Regions from separate parts of the Homo sapiens genome. Here all the other regions are linked to region 1. Evidence: fine-mapped expression QTL. A gene starts in region 1. Each other region holds a variant in brackets. All regions are shown on one strand. Distances are between the middles of the regions.

Region 1 (4,162 bases):
TTCTACACAAGGCTGGTTTATAAGTTACAATTTAATTAGTTATCACTTGTTTTCTTTTCCATGTGTCTCATTTTCATTTCCTTTCCAATTTAAAATAGTATAGTTAACATTTCTTCTTAAAGCAATGCGATAGGCATGAAATCTTTGCGTGAGAAAGGTAAAAGGAAGTTAATCTATAATGAAGTTCAACAGTGAAGAGGGAAGGCATCTTCCTTGGCCTCCTGTAGACATTTACAACATTTTCAAAACAACAGAGGTAAAGAAAGTTAATCTAAAATCAGAGAAACAAAGGTTACAGCAGCCTGCTTATGTGACTTGAGTGCCATAATCACATAATCACATTCCCTTAAGGCTCAAAATATTTTAAAGTTCCAACAGCTTAGGTTTTGAATTATTTATTTTCACATCCCCAAGTCTCACAAACATGAGCCCAACAGGGAAGATTGCAGGAGAGACAGCAGCCACCAGGACAGGGCAGAGGATGCAGCCCTGGTTGTAGTCAGTTTTGCCCTTCGTTGCCCTCAGAGTCATCTTCTCCCTCATCCTCAACCTCCATTCCAGTTTTCTCTGGAGTGTGGCTCAGATCTGCCTCTCCATCCTGGATCCTGCCACGCCTGAGCCTTCATCACCTTAGACCCTCTGCACCTCTCCTACTACACACACCACAGCCTGGACAGTGTTCCATGCAGGCCGTCTTCACCCCATGCTTGCTCAAGAGCTCACCATGGCCCCTCAGAGGAACCAGGGCCCTTATCTTGATCTTCAAGGCTGTCCTCAAAGGCCAGTCCTGTCCCCAGTCCCCACAGCTCCTCCTTACTTTTGACTCCTTCCCAGCACAGACACATGACCAGCAGATGGTTGGCTACCCCAGCCCAGGACCAGCCTACTCCTATCAGTCCCTGACAACCAAGTGTCCTTGTGGAGGCACCCCGAATCGAAGCCCCCTCCCTCTTCCCCAACCTTAGAACAGCTTCTCCCCCAGAGTTCTCTCTGTGAAGTTAACTTTTTGTTGCTTTATCTCTTTGTCCTCCATCTTCTTCAGAGGAGCATTTAAGCCCCATGAGGGCAGAAGCCTCATCTCACTGAATCCCAGTACTTGGAACCATGCCTAGAACATGGTAGGTGCATTCATATTTGTTGATAGTCATTAGGAAGATAGATCCTGTATGAACCCCTTTGGTTCATTCCCTAAATCCTCTCCAACATTGGTCAGTGTTGGGTTTTCCGGTCTCTGTCAGTGAGCAGTGAGCTGTTCATCCCTGCCTCATTTCTGTGTTCTGCTGTATAAAACTTTCTTATTAGACATTGGTTTTCTCCCCCAACACCACTAACCTGAACACAGACTACAGGCTGATTTCTTTTTTCTTTTTTTCTTTTTTTTTTTTTTTTTTTGAGACAGAGTTTCGCTCTTGTTGCCCAGACTGGAGTGCAATGGCGTAATCTTGGCTCACCACAACCTCTACCTCCCTGGTTCAAGCGATTCTCCTACCTCAGCCTCCCTAGTAGCTGGGATTACAGGCATGTGCCACCATGCCCGGCTAATGTTTGTATTTTTAGTAGAGATGGGGTTTCACCATGTTGGCCAGGCTGGTCTCAAACTCCTGACTTCAGGTAATCTGCCCACCTCAGCCTCCCAAGGTGCTGAGATTACAGGTGTGAGCCACTGCACCCGGCCTCAGACTGATTTCTTAATAACAAAAAGTACCTTTTCCTTACTGTCTGTGAGTTTGCTTCCACGATCTGAGATGCAGCATTGTGTTTTCCCCTAAGAGGAAATTTACCTTGCAAATAACCAAGAGGTTTCTATAATCCTCCTGAAGTTATTTCGTTTGGAAGAAGTCTGTGGTAGCCAATATCAGCCCAGAATTAGTGATTCCATAATATCCGTTAGCTTACACATTTGCCTCTGCCACTCTCTTCCCAAGACAGCTCCCTCCTCAACCTCTGCTCACTGTAAGTCCGGCGTCCAGATCCCCCCCTTACTGGTGCCGTCCTGATTTAAGCCCTTCCTCGTCCTGTTTATCTCAGCTCAAAGGGCTCTGTCTGCACTTTGCCCATTCTCCCTACTGATTTCCAGTTTATGACCATAGCCTCAGTGGGTCCCCAGCTGAGTTCCTGCAGCCTTCACTTTCTGTCCAACGTCTTCTCACCTCTAGCCTCTCTGTTCCGGTGCCCACTCCCATCCCCAGGACGCGATGCCCCCGCGGGTTACCTGTAACTGGTGCAGTTGCAGGGCATAGCCTTGAACGAACAGCTGAAAGAAGAAGCGCAGCTGTCCTAGACGTGGAATCTCCTCTAAGCTCCGTTGCCGCCGCCGGACACCAGGCCCGGCTCCGGGAGCTCCGGTGGCCTTGTCCGAGGGGAGGGCGGCAGGGATCGCGGCCTTGGCTCTGGCCCCGTGGGGGCAGAGGCCACGGCCGGCCCCTCGCAGCGCCCACCTCAGCCTCGCGCAGCCCAGCGCAGCCATGGGTTGTGCTCGCGCGCCTGCACCTTTGGGTCGAGTGCTGAGTCCCCGGACCCGCCCAGACAGCAGTGCAGGGCGGGTTCAAAGCCGGGCGCTGGGGAGGGCCGAGCAAAGGCCAGCTAGACCCCTTCCCGCTCGCTCCCTCGCTCCTCCCAGCGACGCGGGAGCTGCAGGAGAGGGACGCGGTGACTCGGGGATATCCACGGCGCCCCGACCAAGGCCTCCGCCACGACTCCTCACCCCGCGCCCCCGAGGCCTCTCAAATAACTTTTCGCTTGGTCTGAACTCTGGGCGGGGGTGCAGCGAGATTCTTTCGAAATCGGGAAGCCCCACACCGGGATAGGTCCTCGCCCGGTCGCGGTTCCCCACCCAAGGCGACCCTCGCGTCCTGGAGGGAACGGGAACCGGCCGTGGCTAAGCTGCCCTCGGCTTCTCCCAATGGCCTTCCGGATTGATCCCGGAGTCAGTTCGGAGCGAGGGGGGCCAGTCATCTGATCCCTGGAGGGGGGCCGCTGAACAAAGAAATCTAAATATTCGTGTTTTGTTGTTTTTTTTTTTAATTCAATTCTCCCTCCACGCACCTCCCTGCCGCGTCTGCCAAGGCAGGATATTTCAAACTGCAGGTTGAGACCAGATTTCGTAGATGATGGCCAGAATTATTTTTAATAAAATGGAAAGAGTAACATAGTACGGAAAACGTACAGCAAGAAGAAAAAAAAAGTATTGTCTTATGAATCCTATGTTTCATGTATATTCAAAGTATAGTTGTCAAAAAGTTTAAAAACATAACTCACGCAAGTATAAAATAAATACAGGGTCAAAGATCACATTCAAGCCAGGAATGAAGGACCCAGCAGGATGGTACAGCTGGTTCTAACAGCATTTGAAAAATTGGTGATTTACAGGCAGCCAGAGAAGAAAGGGCATATTAAGTTCAATTAGGCTGACAGCTGAGTTGCTAGGTGTGGCTTTCTACTTATTTATTCTAGGACTCCTAGTTTCTTGACTCTGTGACTGGATGTCTTTGATCAGTCTGGGGAGTTTCTCAGATATTATCTGTTCAAATATTGCTCCTCCCCATTTTTTTCTCCTTTCCCGGGACTTCAAACTGCTATATGTATGTTAGCTCTCCCTGTATCCTTCCTCTCTCTTATCCTGTCTTGTGTATTTTTGTTCCTTTGTGTCATATAGTTTGTTAATTCTCTCCTCCCCACTCCCCAGAGTCTCACCCTGTCGTCCAGGCTGGAGTGCAGTGGTGCAATCCTGGCTCGCTGCAACCTCCGCCTCCCGGTTCAAGCAATTCTCCGGTCTCAGCCTCCAGAGTAGCTGGAATTAGAGGTGCCCGCCACCACGCCCGGCTAATTTTTGTATTTTTAGTAGAGATAGGGTTTTGCCATGTTGGCCAGGCTGGTCTCAAACTCCTGACCTCAGATGATCTACCTACCTCGGCCTCCCAAAGTGCTGGAATTACAGGTGTGAGCCACAGCACCCAACCTAGACCATATTTTTCATTTGGTTTTTGGACAGGAAGGACAGGAGGCCATGCTTTAAAAACGTGGTGGCACACGTGATCCCAGCTACTTGGGGAGACTGAGGCAGGAGAATCGCTTGAACCCGGGAGGCGGAGATTGCAGTGAGCTGAGATTGTGCCATGCACTCCAACCTGGACAACAGAGTGAGACTCCATCTCAAAAAAAA
Region 2 (4,162 bases), 37 kb after region 1:
AACAGTTGGCTAAGGAAGCTCTTTGGCTGGGAGAACAAAGGGCAGAACATTGTAAGAAGGGAACCTCGAGGCCAAGGAGGTGGGAGGATGGGGTAAGGGATATGTGCTACAGGCTCACCTCTGTACCAGGAGGGGCCTTCGCTTGGGGAGCTGACTCCACTTGTGAATAACCTGGATGCCAATGCCTCGAGCTGATGCTGGCTAGGAGCAGAAAGGAGATGAGATTTGCTCCAGGTCCAATACTCTGTTGTTCCCACTCACAGACCATAGTCTCCTGCCCACTGTGATTCACTCACTGGCTTCACAATCCACTTTTGGCGGCTGCTGCTCTCCCACGCTTTGCGCAGGAGCTTGGCGTCCTGGGGCAGGATAAAGGACTGGGGGAAGAAACTGAACTCCTTCTTGCCAAAGCGGCTCTGCATACGTGACAGGTTCCGCCATAGCCGGTCCTTCCTCCCAATCTGGAATGAGCCTGGGAAATGGTTTAGCTACAAAAGGGAAAAGGGTGAGTGCAGGAAGAGGGCAGAGGTGAGGCCATGAGGAAGATGACAAGACTCATTCTACCATTCCAACTTCTTTAGCAGCACTCCAAGCTTTTGTTCCATCTTACTATCACCACCCTAATGGTCCTCAAGTATCCAACTGCAGAGCACTCACCAAAAGATGATTAAAACACAGACAAAACAGAGTAATGTAAGCCAGATGTGATATTCACCTTAAGTGCAAAGAAAAAGCTATTACATCTTTATCCATGAAACCCTATGGGATGAGGACAGAAAAGCATTTCGCCTTTAGTAAGTCTGGAGGCAAGGGACTCATTCATTCCAATGTGAGACCAGAAGTCCTCTTTACACATATTCAGCTTGGGAGAATGGAATGTGCAGTGATCATAGGGAAACATAATAAACAGAAAACAGACAATCTAACTCAAGACACATTAGAGGAAAAAGCATCTTGGAGAAGCTGCAACTGCAGGATTTCAGAGTTACACCCTCCTATGAGGTTGGAGTTCAGGAGAGGGACTCAGCTGCCCCCTACATAGGCAAGAAACTCCAAGATACTGCAGCTGAACTGGAGATGTACGTGATCCACTGGAGTCTCTCACTGTACCCCCGTCCTGTACTTTCTCCTCTGTACACCTTCCTGACTTCTCCATGGTCATCATCCTCTTCCCGCCCCCTACCCCCTACTCACATCATCCCCCTCCTCTTGGCCTAGTCCAAAGTCCAGGGAAACAGCTCCTCAGAAAGGACCCCTACCTTCTGATGCTCTCGAATGGATCGGAAACTAGGAGACTTCATGTGGTGACCCCAGCAGCCCAGCCAGTCATCGTTTCCTATGGGAGGTACATCAGGAATCAGCCTTGCTAACAGCTCAGTCCAGGGACAGAGAGAGGCCCAGAGGCCCCAGAACTGGGCAGAGCTCCCAGACTTGGTTTTCAAAGAGTTGCTATGGAGCTGTCCTACATGAGGCCCTGGGGCCAGGGACAGAACAATGGCCCTCTGTCTCTCAATTCTGAACAACAGGCTCAGTCCAGGATTTCAGAGCTACACCCTCCTATGAGGTTGGATTTCAGGAGAGGGCCCCAGCTGCCCCGACATAGGCACGAGGTGTCTAGAGCTCTCCCCCTATGCAAAGCCCATCTATTTGGGGCAAAAGGACAGGCTCACAGTAAGGCAAGCAACTCACTTTTGCTGATTTTGAAGTGGGACCGTCCAATGGTCTGCTTGACAATGTTGGGGGTCACTGTGCTCATCTTCCATCGGAGCAACTTCCTCTGTTCCCAGGGAAGTTTCTCCACTGGGAAGAATGCAAGGGGTGTGGGGATGGGGGATGGAGAGGAGCAGAGAGTCATGATGAGAAGACAAAAAAGATGGCATGGCTGCCCATTCTTCCCTGGGCAGGCAAGTCACTAACTATTGCTCCAGATCAGGGTTTCAGAGGAGCACACTTTGGGAAAGAAGAGGGGCTGTGCAGGAATGAGGAACAAAGAAAGGGAAGACTGAAAGGGAAAAGCAACAAGGTTGAAGAGCATGAACTCAGCATGACATGGCAAGGCTGAAAAGGGTCAGCTAAAGGACAGACAAGAAAAAGG[T/G]TGCATCAGACCTACGACCACATGGGGAACTGAGCACAGTGTGACAACTGCCACAACAGCCATTCTGGAAACCCTCTCCTACCTACTGCCACCTCCTCCCAACTTAGCTAGCAACCTTCTCCCCGGGGGCTCTTCTGGGCTTTGACACTTGGCCAGGTTTACCTCTCTCATCCCGAGTGCCAAAATAGATGGTAGGGGGAACGTTGGGAAAGAGACTGTAGATGAGGGCTGGTCGGACAACTTTCTCATGATTGGAAAGGGGTTTGGTCAGAATTTCCATACAGCTTCTAAGACGAAAAACAAACATGGAGTAGAGAAAGGGAAAAAGCAACAGCCCTGAAGCGTCGTTACTACGACGTACGATTTATTTCCAAGTGCTGTCTTTTAACTTGTGATTCTAAAAAGCCAGGTGCTCAATAATTAATAATTATTTTGTACATATTAATCCATAAGGTACTAGGCTAACCTACATACAACCACACCATTAAATGTCACCTAAAGACAAGGTTTTCCAACACTTCATTCTGCAATACAGCTCCAAAATTTCCCGTGACAAGACATTGGCTGGGAAAGTCCCTGACAGGAGTAGTTCTGAGAGGGGAAATGAATGTGGGTGGATACCAGTAGCAGAACGTGCTATGCTAAGACAAAGAAATAAATGAGAGAAAAGAATGATGTAAAAATTACGAAGGAGGAAAACCAAACAAGATCTGAGGTGTAGAGACTTTTAAATAAAAAAAGGGGAAAAAGCAATAGAAAGAAAAGAAACAGTGATACTTCCAGTTCATTTTATATTTAGGTTCATCTAAAGATTCATGAACCATTAGTGCTTTTCTCCATTTTGGAAGTGATTTGTGACACTGTAATTTTATGTAACAGTATGGGAACACAGATATGGATGTGATGAAGAGATGTGGCTGATGTGGGACAGTGGGCCATGGGGGTCCCTACTGTTAATCCAACAAGGGCTTGGCCAAGGCTGTCTCAAGGGGTGTCAACATAGCAAACATATCAACTACCTGTCAGGTACAAGCTGAGAGACCAAGATCATTCCTTTAACTAGCACTGAAAAATGGAGAAAATAGCTATTACTCTTTACAACTTAGATAATATAATCCACGAATATTATTATAACATTAATTTTTAGTTTAAAAAAGTCACTTTACCTGTTATTATTTTCAGCACAACAGAAATAGGCACTGTATGTGAAACACTTCAGTGTTTTAACTCTTAAAGATTTTTAATGAATTTTATGGAATCAAGTTAAATACTAATTCCCAATGAAAAATTCTAATTAATTCAACTCTATTCCTCATTTTCAAACTTTTTCTTCAAAGGCTTTTGGTTTACTGAGTATGAGAATTTAAGATTGTTGAAAGTCAATAAGAATGAGTTAAAATTTAAAAACAAAGATAGAGGCCGGGTGCAGTGGCTCATGCCTGTAATCCCAGCACTTTGGGAGGCTGAGGCAGGCGGATCACCCGAGGTTGGGAGTTGGAGACCAGCCTGACCAACATGGGGAAACCCCGTCTCTACTAAAAATACAAAATTAGCCAGGCATGGTGGCGCATGCCTGTAGTCCCAGCTACTCGGGAGGCTGAGTCAGGAGAATTGCTTGAACCCAGGAGGCAGAAGTTGCAATGAGCCAAGATCACGCCATTGCACTCCGGCCTGGGTAACAAGAGCAAAACTCCATCTCAAAAAAACAAAAACAAAACAAAACAAAAAAGATAGAAACGTAAAATGGTACAGCCACTCTGGAAAACAATTTTGGCAGTTTCTTAAAAAAACTAAACATGTAACCACCATACAACCTAGCAATTGCACTCCTGGGCATTTATCCCAGAGAGATGAAGACTTCCATTGACAGAAAAATATGTACATGATTATTTATAGCAGCTTTATTCATAACAGCCAAAACCTGAAAACAACCCAAATATCCTTCAACAGGTGTACGGTTAAACAAACTGTGGTACATCCATACCACAGAACACTATCCAGCAATAAAAAAGAATGAGAACTATTAATACATGCAACAACCCCGGTCAGTCTCCAAAGAATATGCTG
Region 3 (4,162 bases), 150 kb after region 1:
TCCAGATGTTTCTCCCCGTCTAAAGCCAGCACACCAACCCTTCCCGTGAAATGCCCACCTCAGGACTCATCCCCCTCCAGGCCTTCCTGGATGCAGATATACACAAAGATGGAAGCTGGGCGGAGGCTGATGCCATCTTTGGACAGCAGGTGAATGTGGCGGTAACCTGGAAGGGGCAGGAGGACAGCATTAGGAAGGCAGCCAGAGCTGGGGTATTGGCCAGGGGCCAAAGGGGCTGGCTCACCTTGTTGCATGCAGGTCCAAGGCAGGGTGTACTGACCAATAAAGTCATTTCGGGATTTCCAGTCATAATCCATTACCACAAAACGCAGCATGGCAAGTTCAGGCACCAGCACCCGGAAACATAGTGTCTGCCCCCAGTATGGATTAAAACCTGAGTTGGTGGACAGAAAGAAATAAGAAGACATTATGACAGTTTTCTTGACTGGGTTGCTTTTCTTGTGTTCTCATTTAATCTAGATGGCAATCAGCATTTTACAGGTAAGGAAAAAGGCTCAGAGTAAGCAAGTAATTTGCCCAGGTCACTGGAGCTTTTAAGTGAAGAGCCAGGATTCTTTGTACTGTTCCACACTGCCTCCCATGTGGGGACATGCAATAACAGATGCTATACTTAATGGAAGACAGACTAGAAGGAAAACTAATCATGCTCCTACCCCCACCTCCCCAGCACTGCCAGTTTCTCACCATTGTTCTCCACATAGTTGGTCTCCTGCCGTGCTGTGTCTAGACGAACGCCAAAGATCTGCACTTTCACCAGTGGATCCACAATGGACCCCTCTTTGGTCTTGTCCACTTTGGGGAGTTGCTGACCGCTGATCACCTGTAGTCAGGGCTCTGGAATCTCACAAGTTCCTGCTCAGCCCAGCCCCACCCGACCCTACTCCCAACCCCAGGGGAGAAGAAGCTTTTTGGTTTGTAAAACATCCTCCATGGGTAATATATTTTCTTCTAGTATTCTATCTGCAATTTAAAATGCACCCAAAGGCCGGGCACGGTGGCTCACACCTGTAATCCCAACACTTCAGGAGGCCGAGGTGGGCAGATCACTTGAAACCAGGAGACCAGCCTGGCCAACATGGTGAAACCCTATCTCTACTAAAAATACAAAAATTAGCCAGGCATGGTGGCGGGCGCCTGTAGTCCCAGCTACTCGGAAGGCTCAGATGGGAGAATCACTTGAACCCAGGAGGCGGAGGTTGCAGTGAGCCAAGATCATGCCACTGCACTCCAGCCTGCAGCAGAGCAAGACTCTGTCTCAGAATAAACAAATAAATTAAATGGATCCAGGTAGAAATTCAACAGTTTGAAAGTAGGCATGCTAATGACAGCAGCCACTTTTTTTTTTTCAAAGAGACACGATCATACTCTTGACCAAGCTGGAATGCAGTGGGGCAGTCATAGCTCACTGCAACCTCCATCTCCTGGGCTAAAGTGACCCTCCAGCCTTAGCCTCCTGAGTAGCCAGGACTATCTATAGTCATGTGCCACCATGCCAGGCTAATTTTTAAATTTTTTGTAGAGACGGGAGTCTCTACAAAATTTTTAAATTTTTTGTTGAGACCAGTTTCAGACTGGTCTCAAACTCCTGGGCTCAAGCAGTCCTCCTGCCTTGGCCTCCAAAGCGCTGGGATTACAGGTGTAAGCTATCGCTCCCAGCCAGCCTCTTTTATAGCACTTCCTGTGTGCCAGGAATTGTAAGAACTTTATATTAACTGTTATACTCCTTATAACCCTGTGAGGCAGGTGGTAGTGTTACCCCTATTTTGCAGGTGAGCAGACTGAGGTATGGAGAGGTTAAGGAACTTGCCCAACATTACCCAATTAGGAAGTTGTGGTTTGAAGCTAGGCAGCTGGCTCCAAAAGCTAAAACTAGACACTGTTAATAGGCTATCCGGCCTCTACATTCCGGTCAGGCCTAGCCACCTCTTCCCTCACTTCTATCCCAGTTATCTCAGTTTCTTCCCAACAGTTTATTTCCACTGTACCTGGATTAAGAGAGTCTGGGCTTTGAAAGGGCTGATGGGCTTCTCAGGGTGGAAAGAACTCTGGATATCACGCAGGAAGTCTGGCTTCAGCACATAGCCACAGCCGCCATTCTGGCGGAAATGCCCATCACAGATGTCCATTTCAAGCCCTGCAGTCTGCATATTCATGGCCACTGAGGGCCCCAGGAGAAAAGAAGAGCAAGATTCACCATGGAGGCCTTCCAGCCCCTCTTTCAGGGAGTTAAGAAGATAGGTACTGGGTGCACGGTACCTGCTGGTAATATCCACTGATAGCATTTCTCAGCCTAGCAATTTTCTTGAGCATTCCCCAACCCTACCATCACTAGAGAACTTATTTCCCACCTGCTGCTCCTCCACTCCC[T/G]CTTCCCAGTCCCTGCTGCCTCCTCACCCATCTGGCAGCCTGCATTCCAGAGTTCCTGGGGGTTGTAGTTGGAAGAGTCTGTCCTCAGGCCGCTGGGATACACACGGCTTAACTGCCAAGTATTGTGCTGCACAAACTCATTGCCTGTAAAAGGGTATAGAGAGGGAGATGGAAGTGGGGTGGAATCTCCCACTTCCCTAGTCCCAAGGACCATGCCTACTCTTCACCCTTCTCTCCAGCATCTGAAGCTGGCTCCAGAAAGTTTCACTGTGCCTCTCTACTCTGTCCATCCAGACCAGCTTTCCTGCCCCTAGACCCTTGAGCCACTATTCATAACTCCTCTGCCCTTGTCTGCTCTAAGGAGTTTCTGAACTCCTTCATCTCTCCTTAGCTACCTTGTCTTTTTTCTTGGGACTTACCTGCCAGTCCATCAGGCCTGAACCTATCCATCCCACTTCCCTCCCCATCCCTCCATTTTGGTCCTGACCAGCCTCCTTGATGAGGCGCTTGGCCTTGGTTTCAGAGAAAGATGATATCTCGTAGAAGTGGTAGTGCTCCTTTGAATGTGTGAAGCTGCGGAATGAGACAGACTTCAAGTAGATAACCAGGGAAGAGAGGGCTGGACACAAGATGGGCTTGGATTTCTGGAGAAGGTGGAAAAGAAGATGGAATTGAACCCTCAGCAGTCTGAGAGAGAAGAAGATAATGGCCATCCAACCTAAACCTCTGCCCACTGCCTCCCCACTGTATTCTCCCTCCTGCCTCACCTGCCGGGACAAGAGAAGGGACTCAGGCTTGGAAATAGGAGCCTGGGCCACAATCTGACAACAGATAGACGGACAAAACAGCGGGCACGTCACAACCTGGGGGTGGGAATGGGAATAAAGGCGGTCTGCATGTACTGCTGGGATCAGTGTCAACCTCTGGGCTTGTGTTTGCTCTATGTTATATCCTGGGTGACAGGTTTTAAATTTATTATTATATTTAAACAGAGAGGCATTATCCTCCCTCCCTCTCATTTAAAACAAAGGAACAATAACCTTTGGTCAAAATGTACATGAATCCAGACAGATATGTCAAGGTATGCAAATGGTCATGTAAGTCACACCTGGAAGGATGTGAGAGTCCCAGAGTAATATCTTTGGATTTGTCTCCTGAATTCCCATTTCCATCCCTGGACATGGCAGCAGGTTAGACACCACAGCCCCAGAAAGCACAGGATAAGCTAGGAGTCAGTCAGCTGAGTGAGCCACGCAAGTACACAAGAGAAAGGCAGACTTCAAACCAGGATCTTGGAGGCCCCACCAATGGCATCCCTTCTCCCTCTGCCTCCCTTCCCCATAGGGAGATGGACCACTCTAGCACAGCCTTCTCAGAGCCTTCACGTTCCCCACCTCAAAATGCTCTCCTTCCTGCTCCTCTGGCTACTGCTGGCCCTTCCTAAAACTCATCCTTTCCAAAAAGCTTTCTCTATGCCCACTTTGGTTGAGATCACAACAATCATTCCAGTAACCCCTACTTACCCAATATAATAATGTTACACATACAAACACACACCCGCTCATCACTGGTTTTCAAGCTGGCCTTTAAGAAGACCAAGAAGTACAAAAATGTCTCAGGAGTCACTAGGGCACCCAGGAGAGAGCCAAATGGGTGCTTCAACTAGGATGGTTCTGCGTTTATCTATTTTGCGTAAGATTTCATTTTAAAAAAAAAGATGTGGCCCAAAGAAGTTGGAAAGCCACTGCAACATACCTACATATGGCAGTATATA
Region 4 (4,162 bases), 57 kb before region 1:
TCTGAGTTGACAGTACTTTTCTTTCTGCACTTAAAAAATGTTGTGTCAGGCCAGGCGCGGTGGCTCATGCCTGTAATCCCAGCACTTTGGGAGGCCAAGGCGGGCAGATCACAAGGTCAGGAGTTCAAGACCAGCCTGGCCAACATGGTGAAACCCCATCTCTACTAAAAAGTACAAAAATTAGCTGGGCCTGGTGGCAGGCGCCTATAATCCCAGCTACTCAGGAGACTGAGGCAGGAAAATTGCTTGAAACCGGAAGGCGGAGGTTGCAGTGAGCCCAGATGGTGCCACTGCACTCCAGCCTGGGCAACGAGAGCCAAAATCCATCTCAAAAAAAAAAGGAAAAAAAAATGTGTTGTGCCGCTTCCTTCTGGCTTTCATGATATCTGGGGAGAAATTTGTTGTCATTCGAACTGTTTTTCTCCTATAGGCAAGGTGTCCTTTCTGTCTTATTGTTTTCAAGATTTTTTTTCTTAACAACAACAAGACAAAAAGAAATCTTAAGGTAACAGAAAGGTTGAAAAAAACAAGATTTTTTTCTGTCTTTAGATTCAGAAGTTTTACTATGATGTGCCTTGGCACAAGTTTCACTGGGTTTATTCTGTTTGGCGTTCTCTCAGTTTCTTGAATCTGTAGGTTTATGTCTTTTGCCAAATTTGGGCAACTAAAGGGAGGACTGTAGTTGTAATTGTGTCTTCAGCATACATTTCATTCCTAGTGACCCATCCAGACACCATCCTTTCCTCCTCCCATCTTAACTTTTTTTTTTTTTTAGACAGATTTTCATTCTGTCGCCCAGGCTGGAGTACAGTGGCATGATCTCAGCTCACTGCAACCTCCATCTCCTAGTTTCAAGTGATTCTCCTGCCTCAGCCTCCCGAGTTGCTGAGATTACAGGCATGCGCTACCATGCCCAGCTAATTGTTTGTATTTTTTTTTTGAAGAGACAGGGTTTCACCACGTTGGCCAGGCTGGTCTTGAACTCTTGACCTCAAATGATCCTCCTGCCTTGGCCTCCCAAAGTGCTGAGATTACAGGCATGAGCCACCATACCTGGCCTCATTATAACTTCTAATATTATAAACTAATTTTGTCTGGATTTGATGCAGTAAGACAGCATATGCTATTTTGTGTCTGGCATCTTTCATTGTGCAATTCATTTGTATTATTGCATATACTTGTATGTCGTTCACTCATTCTCATGACTGCCTACTATTCTATATGAGTTGATGAATACCAACATGTATTTGTCCATTCTACTACTGGGACATTTAAACTGTTTCCAGTTTGGGAATATGTTCTCTCTGCACCAGTCATGAATAGTGTTGCTCTAAACATTCTAGTATATATCTTTTGGTGCACAGATGAATGCATTTCTGTTGGATGCATATCCAGGAAGAGAATTCCTGGGTCATAGGATAGGCATCTGTTCAGCTTTAGTAGATAACACCAGTTTTCCAAAGTGATTGTGCCTATTTGTATGCTCATCAGCAGTGTACAAGGGTTTCCACGTTCCACATCCCCTGTACCAGACTCTTTTCATATTCGTTCTTCCTAGTTCTTGAAACAACTCTGTCGGGTAGACATTATTATTCGCATTTTAGGAATGTGGAAATCAAGGCTCAATGAATGTAGATGATTTGCTGAAAGTCACATGCCTAGTGTGGCAATGTTTCTTGGCTGGGCAGAACAGGAGCTCTGTTGAAACCCTCCCTGATAGAATGAGGCAACACTCTTCTCAAAGAAAGGTTCTCTGAGGGCTCTAGGTAAAATAAGACTGCTAAAGACATATGTCCACTCTGGTTTGCAAGCTACCCAGAAGCTCTGTGGTAGAGAACTTGAGCTTGGCCTATTATTGGCATTTAAACATGTGCAGCTGGTGGAGTGGAATTTCCTGAAGGTCAAACTGGGGTAAAGGAGGGAAAAAAGAGGGAGAAAGAGGAGGAAGAGGAGAAGGAGAAGAAGAAAAAGTAGAAGAAGGAGGAGGAGGAGGAGGAAGAAGGAAGAAGAAGGGAGGAGAAAGAGGAAGAGGAGGAAAAGGAGGAGTGAGGGGACATACGGGAGGAAGGAGGATGGGCCCTTGAGGCAAAGTCACTGTGTATAAAAGACATCTGGTAGAGAAGGCTTTACTGGGCAGCAGAGCTGGGATATTAGAGGCTGTAAATCCAGGTGAGAAGTGAGGCTGCACTTGACTGTCACTGTAACCCAGCTCTCTGCCTCACACCCACACCCTGGGACTCTGGGAAGGAGAGAACTATGATATAAGGAAATGATGAGT[A/C]TTACTAGGGACCAGCAGGTTAGCTGCGGGAATGTTTTTTCAAGTAGCCGATCTGAAGAAGTAGATGGAAAGTTTCTGTTGGCTGGCGTAAAAGGGAGACAGAAGCCACAGAAGTCTGGATGATTACTATATCAAAATCAAAAGTTAATCAAAATCACTTCCTCTTCCTAGATAACACTAGGATTTTCAAATACTTTAACTCCATTTTCCCCTGCCCCTAATTTATATATTATAGTTGGCAATATTTTAATTATTTACCCCCCACAAAACATAATTTTTATTTTATACATAAATATATATATAAATAAAATACGTGTGTGTCTGTGTGTGTGTATTTGCAGTTAGTATTCATGTAGATTTATCTACATTTTTACCACTTTTCTTCTTCTTTAATTCTTCTTAGGTTTTCTTAGTTCTTACATCCAACATGTGAGATGATCACTTTCTTCTTTCAGAATTTTTCTTCACTGAGGTGATAAACTTTGTTTTGATCATAAAACAAATTTTTTATCTTATTTGTAAATTTCCTCTTGGTATTAAAATTACAAGTTGGTTGTTACTTTCAGCACACTGAAAATATTCTACCATTTTCTGGTTTCCATTTTCTATTGAGAAGTCAGCTATTAGACTGCCATTTCTTTGGAAGTAACCTGTCTTTTTTTCCAGCTGCTTTCAAATTTTTTTCGCTCTTTGGTTTCTGCATTTTTCACTGCAATGTTTCTAGGTATGGTTTCTTCTCATTTATCCCCCTATGGATTCATAGGCTTCTCAGAGATAGACATTGTTATTTTTCATCAGTTCCAGAAAACCTCAGCTAATCTCTTCAAATAGTGCTCTGCCCCATCCTCTCTCTACTCTCCTTCTGGGATTCTATTTAAATATATTTTAGACTTTCCTCCTCTGACTTCTATGTCTCTTATTCTCTTTCATTGTCTTTTATATTTTTTAATCTCCCTGTATTACATTCCAGGTAAATTCTTCTGACCTAATGTTCAGTTTTCTTTTCAGCTTTATCTAGTCTGTCATTAAATTCATCTATTAAGTTTTTACCTTCATTTCTGTATTTTTCATTTCTAGAAGTTCTATTCACTTTTTTTCAAATCTGCCATGCTGCTTTTTATAGTTTCCTACTTGCTCCCTACTTTTTCAAACTTATCTTATTTATTTAAACATAGTAAACATATTGTTACATATAACGTGTCTGATAATGCCGATTTCTGAGGTTTTCATGGGTCTTTCCTGCTAGCTGTCTTTCTGCTGGTTCTTGCTCATGGTTCCTAGTTTCCTTGTGTACCTGTTATCTTCAAGAATGTGTTGGGTACTATTGGAATAATTTGTGACCTTGGAAGATGATAACTTTCTTCAGAGACTTTCATATTTGCTTCTGCCAGGCACCTGAGATCATTACTGGTTCTTAAACCAAGTTCAAGGTTTGATACTCTCTGGACATTCAGATGAGGAACACTTTGACTATAAATCCATGTAAGTTTGCTTCTGGATTACACTCACTCTGAGGTTGTGGTTTTTTGAGATCCCAGCTTTCTATATACGGGGTCTCTTATCATACTCTCAACTTGTGTGGGTCCTGGGCCCTTATCACCCCATGTGGTTCTCGCTAGAACTGGCAAATGCCCTTGAACAAAAATCACTTCTTTTCTTATGAGCTTCACTGTGTGCCCATTTTCCTTTCAGTTAGGCCTAGTAAGTCTTTGCTATCTTGTCTTTTCAGTGCTTTTAAGAAGATGCTCTTTATATTTTATCTAGCATTTTAAGCTGTTTTTAGTGGAAGATATTTTCTGAATAACATAGCCTGCCAAAACTCTCAAATATTATTTAAGCAAAGTGTATTATTCCCTTTCCTCCCAGAAGACCTCACTTTTGAAA

What was found. PIP is the estimated chance that this variant, and not a neighbour inherited with it, causes the effect.
Region 2: its variant is the best candidate, but not a certain one, in a credible set for the expression of CYP27A1 in whole blood (TOPMed, PIP 0.86).
Region 3: its variant is the best candidate, but not a certain one, in a credible set for the expression of CYP27A1 in whole blood (TOPMed, PIP 0.54).
Region 4: its variant is the best candidate, but not a certain one, in a credible set for the expression of CYP27A1 in whole blood (TOPMed, PIP 0.85).

The regions. Positions count from the first base shown.
Region 1 is chr2:218,780,488-218,784,649 of GRCh38, reverse strand. It overlaps CYP27A1 (cytochrome P450 family 27 subfamily A member 1), which reads right to left and starts at 2,503. Exons shown (of 9, transcript NM_000784.4): 1 at 2,213-2,503. The coding sequence starts at 2,467.
Region 2 is chr2:218,743,329-218,747,490 of GRCh38, reverse strand. It overlaps TTLL4 (tubulin tyrosine ligase like 4), which reads right to left. Exons shown (of 20, transcript NM_014640.5): 6 at 2,258-2,382; 7 at 1,690-1,800; 8 at 1,260-1,336; 9 at 297-488; 10 at 119-201. Among named protein-coding and RNA genes, the nearest start is that of TTLL4, 35 kb to the right of the region's middle. RefSeq lists enhancers at 1-483, 1,477-2,676. The variant T/G (reference allele first, on the strand shown) is at 2,096.
Region 3 is chr2:218,632,475-218,636,636 of GRCh38, reverse strand. PLCD4 (phospholipase C delta 4) reads right to left here. Exons shown (of 16, transcript NM_032726.4): 11 at 2,876-3,032; 12 at 2,416-2,532; 13 at 2,007-2,179; 14 at 706-841; 15 at 245-394; 16 at 1-166. The coding sequence ends at 60. ZNF142 (zinc finger protein 142) reads left to right here. Exons shown (of 11, transcript NM_001379659.1): 11 at 1-3,308. Among named protein-coding and RNA genes, the nearest start is that of ZNF142, 25 kb to the left of the region's middle. The variant T/G (reference allele first, on the strand shown) is at 2,389.
Region 4 is chr2:218,837,096-218,841,257 of GRCh38, reverse strand. No RefSeq gene overlaps it. Among named protein-coding and RNA genes, the nearest start is that of PRKAG3, 7.4 kb to the right of the region's middle. The variant A/C (reference allele first, on the strand shown) is at 2,279.